Linked DNA regions of Homo sapiens. The protein of the gene in region 1 interacts with the protein of each later gene in a pairwise test. Each region holds a gene or a part of one and is shown on either strand. Other genes may lie near its edges. The genes, in order: ZCCHC13 and ZNF250.

Region 1 (3,865 bases):
ATTAGGGATAGAAGAGAGCTTCTTTAACCCAATAAAAAAGTATGTAGTTTTTTTTTTAATTAAAAAACCATGGTTAACATCATACTTAATGGTCAAAGACTGAGAGCTTTCCTCCTGAGATAAAGAACGAGACAGGAATGTCTGCTTTCACTATTTCTATTCAGCATTGTGCTGGAAGTTCTAGCTGGGGCAATTAGGCAAGAGCATGAAATAAAAGGCATCCAGATTAGAAAGGAAGAATATAAACTATCCTTACTTATAGATGACATAATCTTGTCTATAGAAAATCCTAAGGAATCCACTAAAAAACTACTGGAACTATTAAATCAGTTCAGCAAGGTTGCAAGATACAAGATCAACATACAGAAATAATTGTATTTCTATACAATAACAATAAACAATTGAAAAATGATAAGAAAATAATTCTATTTAAGATAACATCAAAAATGATGAAATACTTTAAAAATTTAACAAAAGATGTGCAAGACTTGTATACTGAAAACTACAAAATATCAGAGAATGAAAATAAAAGCCTAAATAAGTGAAACAATAACTTGTGCTCATGTATTTAATTATTCAATTTTTTTTTTTTTTTTTTTTTTGAGACAGAGTCTTTCTCTGTCACCCAGGCTGGAGTGCAGTGGCGCGATCTTGGCTCACTGCAACCTCCACCTCCCAAGTTCAAGCCATTCTCCTGCCTCAGTCTCTTGAGTAGCTGGGATTACAGGCATGCGCCACCATGCCTGGCCAATTTTTGTATTTTTAATAGTGGCAGGGTTTCACCATGTTGGTCAGGCTGGTCTTGAACTCCTGACCTCATGATCTGCCCACCTCGGCCTCCCAAAGTGCTGGGATTACAGGCGTGAGCCACCGCGCCCGGCCAGACTCAATATTTTTAAGATAACAATGGTCTCCAAAATGATCTACAGATTCCATAATCCATATCAAACACCCGTTTGCCTTTTTTTGCAGAAATTGACAAGCTGATCCTAAAATTCATATGAAAATGCAAGGAACTCAGAATAGTCACATCAAAAGAGCAAAGTTGGAGGCCTTACTCCTCCCAATTTCAAAGTATAATGCAAAGCTACAGTAATCAAGATTATGTGGTACTGGTATAAAGATAAACACACAGATATAGCTATTAAATAGTATTTAGGTAAATATATGAGAAACTAAAGAAATAAAGAATGACAATAACTAACTCCAGAGAACATAAAAACCATGCAGGTAATGAAGTGATCAGAGTACTCTCCAAATGGCTCAGGCATGAGTATCATTTACATACTTATAATTATAAAAACATTGAATATTGTCCCAACCAATATTAAGTGAAGGGAGGCATAGTTGGAATGAGGAGTTTGGACTGTGCAAGTGCATAGGGTGGGTGGTAAAAGAAGACTAAATGTTCATCCTCCAAAATGGAAAGACACAGATAATGTCTAAAATTGAAACATCAAAAAGTCATAGTAGCCAGCATATGATTGTGGTTCCAGCTACTCAGGAGGCTGATTGCTCAAGCCCAAGAGTTTGAGACCTGTCTGGGCAACATAGCAAGACTCCTCCTGTCTAAAATAAATAAATAAATAACTCGTAATATAAAGATATGTTTACACATATGCCTCTAAATAGTATGCTTCAAACTATGAGTTCCAATTATTTAGTGAATTAAGAAACCCAGGGGACAGAGCAAGATCATGGGATAGAAGTCGACACAATTTGTCCCCCTCACCTCCACTGGAACACCAAATTTTTTTTTTTTTTTTTTTTTTTTGAGACAGAGTTTCCCTCTGTCGCCCAGGTTGGAATGCAATGGCGCGATCTTGGCTCACTGCAACCTCTGCCTCCCTGGTTCAACTGCCTCAGCTGGGATTACAGGAGCCCGCCACCATGCCCGGCTAATTTTTGTATTTTTAGTAGAGACGGGGTTTCAACATGTTGGCCAGGATGGTCTCAATCTCTTGACCTCGTGATCCTCCCGCCTTGGCCTTCCCGAAGAGCTGGGATTACAGGCATGAGCCACCGCACCCGGCCGACTAAGTCTTAAATTATGAAAACTTCTACAAGTCTAATTTTCTAAATAGGAAAGGATTCAAACTCAATGATTCAAGTGTTGAAACAAACAAAAACGGAAAACAACACTACTCAGTTAACAGATTATTGTGCTTTTGGCTTCTTGAGTAGGAGGAAAGTCGGGCGGGAAGGGCGTCAGGAATGTCCGTGACACGTGAATGGGGCCGTGTGCAAACCTTGTATGACATCACTGAGACACCTAGCGGAAAACAGCTAATTCTTTCTAAGCCGCCCAAAGCGGGGTTGCGCCGGGGCCTCCGGGGCCGAGGTGGGCCTGCTCATTGGAAGATCGCATCGCAGCCATGAGCAGTAAGGATTTCTTCGCGTGTGGACACTCTGGCCATTGGGCTCGGGGATGCCCTAGAGGAGGAGCTGGAGGGCGAAGAGGTGGAGGCCATGGCAGAGGTTCTCAATGTGGTTCCACCACCCTATCTTACACCTGTTACTGCTGTGGTGAGTCCGGTCGTAATGCTAAGAACTGTGTCCTTCTCGGAAACATCTGCTACAACTGTGGGAGAAGCGGCCACATCGCCAAAGACTGTAAGGATCCTAAACGAGAGAGACGCCAACACTGTTATACCTGCGGCAGACTAGGACATCTGGCTCGTGACTGTGATCGTCAGAAAGAGCAGAAATGCTACTCTTGCGGCAAACTTGGGCACATTCAGAAAGACTGCGCCCAGGTCAAGTGTTACCGATGCGGCGAGATTGGCCACGTGGCCATCAATTGCAGCAAGGCGAGGCCAGGTCAACTGCTACCGCTGCGGCAAATCCCGACATCTAGCCAAGGAATGTCCCAGTGAGGTTACCACTTAAATCTTCCCCCCCACCCCCCACCCTTTTGCTGATTGATAATTGTATTATTTTCTCCGAAAACTTCACTCACCGAAAGGTCGATAGATTGAGGCTACTCTCAGGCAAGTGAGCTTTAATTACCATGTTAAAGGAGGAAAGAGCTAGAAAAAAAAACCTCAAAAAAGTTAATCATTGGTAGATGCCCCACAATTAACGTGTTGCTTCTGCCCCACGGGCAAATCTAGTTATTAAATAGTCATTCTGAGCACCAATCACTTAAGGGGTTCTTTTGTTGTATTTTGATTTAACACATTTAATTAAGAGGCACTATTGGAAGAGCTGGATCTAAATGGTGAACAAATTAGAACAAATTTAGAAACACAGGCCTAGAATCTATTAACAAGAAAAATAGTGTGTCAGATGAAGGTAAATTGCCATAGAGAGAAAGAACAGGAGGTAAAAGGATAAAAAGAGAATGTGTATGTGGGGGAAAGAGGGAAAGAATGTGGTTCTGTTTTAGATACACAAGGGCACCCTGAGGAGGTTATATTTCCTCAGAGATCCATAGGGCAAATAAAGCTGATTCTGAAAATCCATGACCTTGCCAAAGTAACTTAAATTTTATCATATTGATGGCTTTGAATTATCTGGCCTCATTAGGTTTTAAACAACATTGAACGAGACATCTCTGTCTGGCCCTGCATAGAGTGTGTAGTTTAATGAAAATAAACCAGAAACAAAATGTATAATGTATATGAGCTGCTTTGAGAGAGAGAGCAATCAGAAAAAAACAGAAACAAAAAATCTTAACAGGCCGGGCGCAGTGGCTTACACCTGTAATCCCAGCACTTTGGGAGGCCAGACCAGAAGGATCACTTGAGCCCAGGAGTTTGAGAGCAGCCTGGGCAACACAGTGAGCTTTTCTCTACAAAAAATACAAAATTAGCCGGGTGTGGTGGCGCATGCCTGTAGTCCCAGCTACTCTAGAGGCTTAGGC
Region 2 (3,923 bases), on another chromosome or scaffold:
CAGCACTTTGGGAGGCCGAGGTGGGTAGATCACGAAGTCAGGAGTTTGAGGCCATCCTGGCCAACATGGTGAAACCCTGTCTCTACTGAAGATACAAAAAAATTAGCCAGCCATGGTGGCATGTGCCTGTAATCCCAGCCACTGGGGAGGCTGAGGCAGGAGAATCACTTCAACCCGGGAGGCAGAGGTTGCAGTGAGCCGAGCTCGTCCCATTGCACTCCAGCCTGGGCGACAGGGTAAGACTCCGTCTCTAAAAAAAGAATTATGTTCATAAACAGAATAGACATAAATAAACTATGGTATTTTAACTTAATGGAATATACTGCAGTGAAAATGATTAACTGCTGTACAACAACATGATGGATCTCAAAAACATAATGCTGACGGGAAAACGAGTTCCAGAAGACTGTGCTCCATGAAACTATAGAAAGCTCAGAAACACGCATAACTAAGTAAAATAAAATATAATAATGTTTAGAGCCAGGCACAATGGCTCATGCCTGTACTCCCAGCACTTTGGGAGGCAAAGGCGGGAGGATCATATGAGCCCCAAGCAGCTTGAGGCTGCAGTGGGCTATGATAGTAGCCACTGTACTCCAGCTTGGGTGACAGAGACTCCATCTAAAAAAAAAATCACTGTTGTCCTCAGCACCTCTTACCTCCCACCCACTCACACACAATCAGCCTGCAGAGCGCTCGACCTGCTCCCAGAAGAGTCTCCACCCCTGCCTTTCCCGCCATCTATGCTTCTGCTCCTGAAGGCCTCATCTGTGGCCTAAACTTGGCAGCAGATTCCCATCATGCCCCTCTGCACCTTCAGTCTTGTCCTTCCCTCCCCTCCTCCTGCCACTGCATTCTCCACATGAAATTATCTTCCACATGGCCAGGTCCGATGGTTCACGCCTGTAATCCCAGCACTTTGGGAGGCCGAGGTGGGTGAATCACTTGAAGTCAAGAGTTCAAGACCAGTCTGGCCGACACGATAAAACCCCATCTCTACTAAAAATACAAAAATTAGCCAGGCATGATGGTGTGCGTCTGTAATCCCAGTTACTCAGGAGGCTGAGACACGAGAATCGCTTGACCCCAGGAGGTGGGGGTTGCAGTGAACCGAGATTGTGCCACTGCACTCCAGCCTGGATAACAGAGCAAGGCTCCTTCTCAAAAAAAAAAAAAAAGAAATTATTTTCCACAAAGAGGTGGCAGCACCACCACCCCTACCTCATGTACAAGTCTGTTGGCCTCCAGATGGCACACCCCGACTTGCTCACAATAGCTCACACCTCTCCCTGCCTGCCCAAGTGCTGCTGTCTGCCCCACAAGGCACCCACATTATGTGGGCCTGTATTTCAGCTCTGTCCACATGAGGACCCCTGGGAGGGCAGGACTCAGGCACCACTGGGCTGTTTCCCTGCTGTTCTGTGGACTCCACACAGGGGTGTGACCTCAAACTGGAGTTTACACCTTTCTCTTAAAGCTTGCCTTGGCACCTTCCTGTCTGGAAACATTATCTTCTGATATCTAGTTGTTTGACACAGTTATGGTGGTTCTGTTCTTCTGTAGCTCACACCAACGTGTGCATTGAGGGATTTTGCACCTTCATCAGCAAGGCCAGTTTCAGGGTTGCACTAGCTCTTCAGTTTTGAGTAGTGTTAACATTTTCATTTTGGATTTGTTCTTTCAGAATGTGAAACCAAGGGAGAGAGTCAAAATACAGACTTGAGTCCGAAGCCATTAATTTCAGAGCAAACAGTGATTCTGGGGAAAACACCCTTGGGGAGGATTGATCAAGAAAATAATGAAACAAAGCAAAGCTTCTGTCTGAGTCCAAACTCTGTTGACCACCGTGAAGTTCAGGTCTTAAGCCAAAGCATGCCACTCACTCCGCACCAGGCAGTGCCTAGTGGAGAGAGGCCCTACATGTGTGTTGAGTGTGGGAAGTGCTTTGGCCGGAGTTCCCACCTCCTTCAGCATCAGCGTATCCACACTGGAGAGAAGCCCTATGTGTGCAGTGTATGTGGGAAGGCCTTCAGCCAGAGCTCAGTCCTTAGTAAACACAGGAGAATTCACACAGGTGAGAAGCCCTATGAGTGTAATGAGTGTGGAAAAGCCTTTAGAGTGAGCTCAGATCTTGCTCAGCATCACAAGATACATACAGGAGAGAAGCCTCACGAATGTCTTGAGTGTCGGAAAGCCTTCACTCAACTCTCACATCTCATTCAGCACCAGCGGATCCACACGGGAGAAAGGCCATATGTGTGTCCGTTGTGTGGGAAAGCCTTCAACCATAGCACTGTTCTGCGGAGCCACCAGAGGGTACACACTGGGGAGAAGCCTCACAGGTGCAATGAGTGTGGGAAAACCTTCAGTGTGAAGAGGACACTGCTGCAGCACCAGAGGATCCACACCGGGGAGAAGCCCTACACGTGCAGCGAGTGTGGGAAGGCCTTCAGCGACCGCTCAGTCCTCATTCAGCACCACAACGTGCACACCGGGGAGAAGCCCTATGAGTGCAGTGAGTGTGGGAAGACCTTCAGCCACCGCTCCACACTGATGAATCACGAGCGGATCCACACCGAGGAAAAGCCCTATGCATGCTACGAATGTGGGAAGGCCTTCGTTCAGCACTCACACCTGATCCAGCACCAGAGAGTCCACACTGGGGAGAAGCCCTATGTGTGTGGTGAATGTGGGCACGCCTTCAGTGCACGCCGGTCTCTGATCCAGCATGAGAGAATCCACACAGGTGAAAAGCCCTTCCAGTGCACAGAATGTGGCAAAGCCTTCAGCCTGAAAGCAACTCTGATTGTGCACCTGAGGACCCACACGGGCGAGAAGCCATATGAGTGCAATAGCTGCGGGAAGGCCTTCAGCCAGTACTCAGTGCTCATCCAGCACCAGCGGATCCACACAGGCGAGAAGCCCTATGAGTGCGGGGAGTGTGGGCGTGCCTTCAACCAGCATGGCCACCTAATCCAGCACCAGAAAGTGCACAGAAAGTTGTGACCCATGGCTGACACAAGAATCCATTCTCACAGAAACTGCATGTGGAACCACAAGCAGCCTTCAGCCCAAGAGAAGTCTCTGTTAACTCTATAGGAAGCTTTTCTTTGGCGATTCAGTGTCACAAAATAACTCCAGAAAGAAGCACTTAGCGTGCTGTTCCTGTGGAAAAACTTCAGAGACTACCTGTTTTATTTTCCTCAACATCTTGAAGTTATGTTGGAGAGTAATCATACAATTGTAGAGAATTTTGGTAAAAAACAGCCATAATTCTTTAACATTAGTTTATTTGAACTAAGGGAATTTAAGGCATAAGAACCATTATCCCAATAAAATCTTACATTCCAAATAAAGTTCTTTTTCTAAGAACATTACATGCCCTTCCTAAATATCAATTAACCATACTAATTATTGCACTTAAAATTTGAAAGTCGGACTATTTTCAGTATTCTCTTAAAAGACTAAAGTATTGTATGGATAAAGTGATATAAAAAGATATTTTCATCAAGCATCATGTAAAATGGTTGGAAATCCTAAGTGTGTGGATTTCCATCCTAAGTGTGTGGAGTCCTGTTTTGTATGAAACAAGGAAAAAGCTTATATATTAGTGAGAAATTACATAAATTTAAAAAACTTTTTGTATGTGTGTGTGGAGATAGTCTTGCTCTGTTGCCCAAGCTGCAGTGCAGTGGCATGATCTTGGCTCACTGCAGTCTCCGCCCCCACCCCAGGTTCAAGCTTTTCTTGTGCCTCAGTCTCCCAAGTAACTAGGATTATAGATATGCGCCACCACACCTGGCTAATTTTTGTATTTTTAGTAGAGACGGAGTTTCACCGTGTTGGCCAGGCTGGTCTCGAACTCCTGGCCTCAAGTGATCCTCCCACCTTTGCTTCCGAAAGTGTTGGGATTACAGGCGTGA

What was found.
Region 2: the proteins of ZCCHC13 (region 1) and ZNF250 interact in binary tests that used the Homo sapiens proteins (3 or more experiments, as listed by UniProt).

Annotation. Positions count from the first base shown.
Region 1 is NC_000023.11:74,301,892-74,305,756, forward strand, and holds ZCCHC13 (zinc finger CCHC domain-containing protein 13), read left to right. Parts: upstream 1-2,288; 5' UTR 2,289-2,375; coding exon 2,376-2,876; 3' UTR 2,877-3,143; downstream 3,144-3,865.
Region 2 is NC_000008.11:144,880,598-144,884,520, reverse strand, and holds part of ZNF250 (zinc finger protein 250), read left to right. Parts: intron 1-1,684; coding exon 1,685-3,006; 3' UTR 3,007-3,923. UniProt on the Homo sapiens protein: May be involved in transcriptional regulation.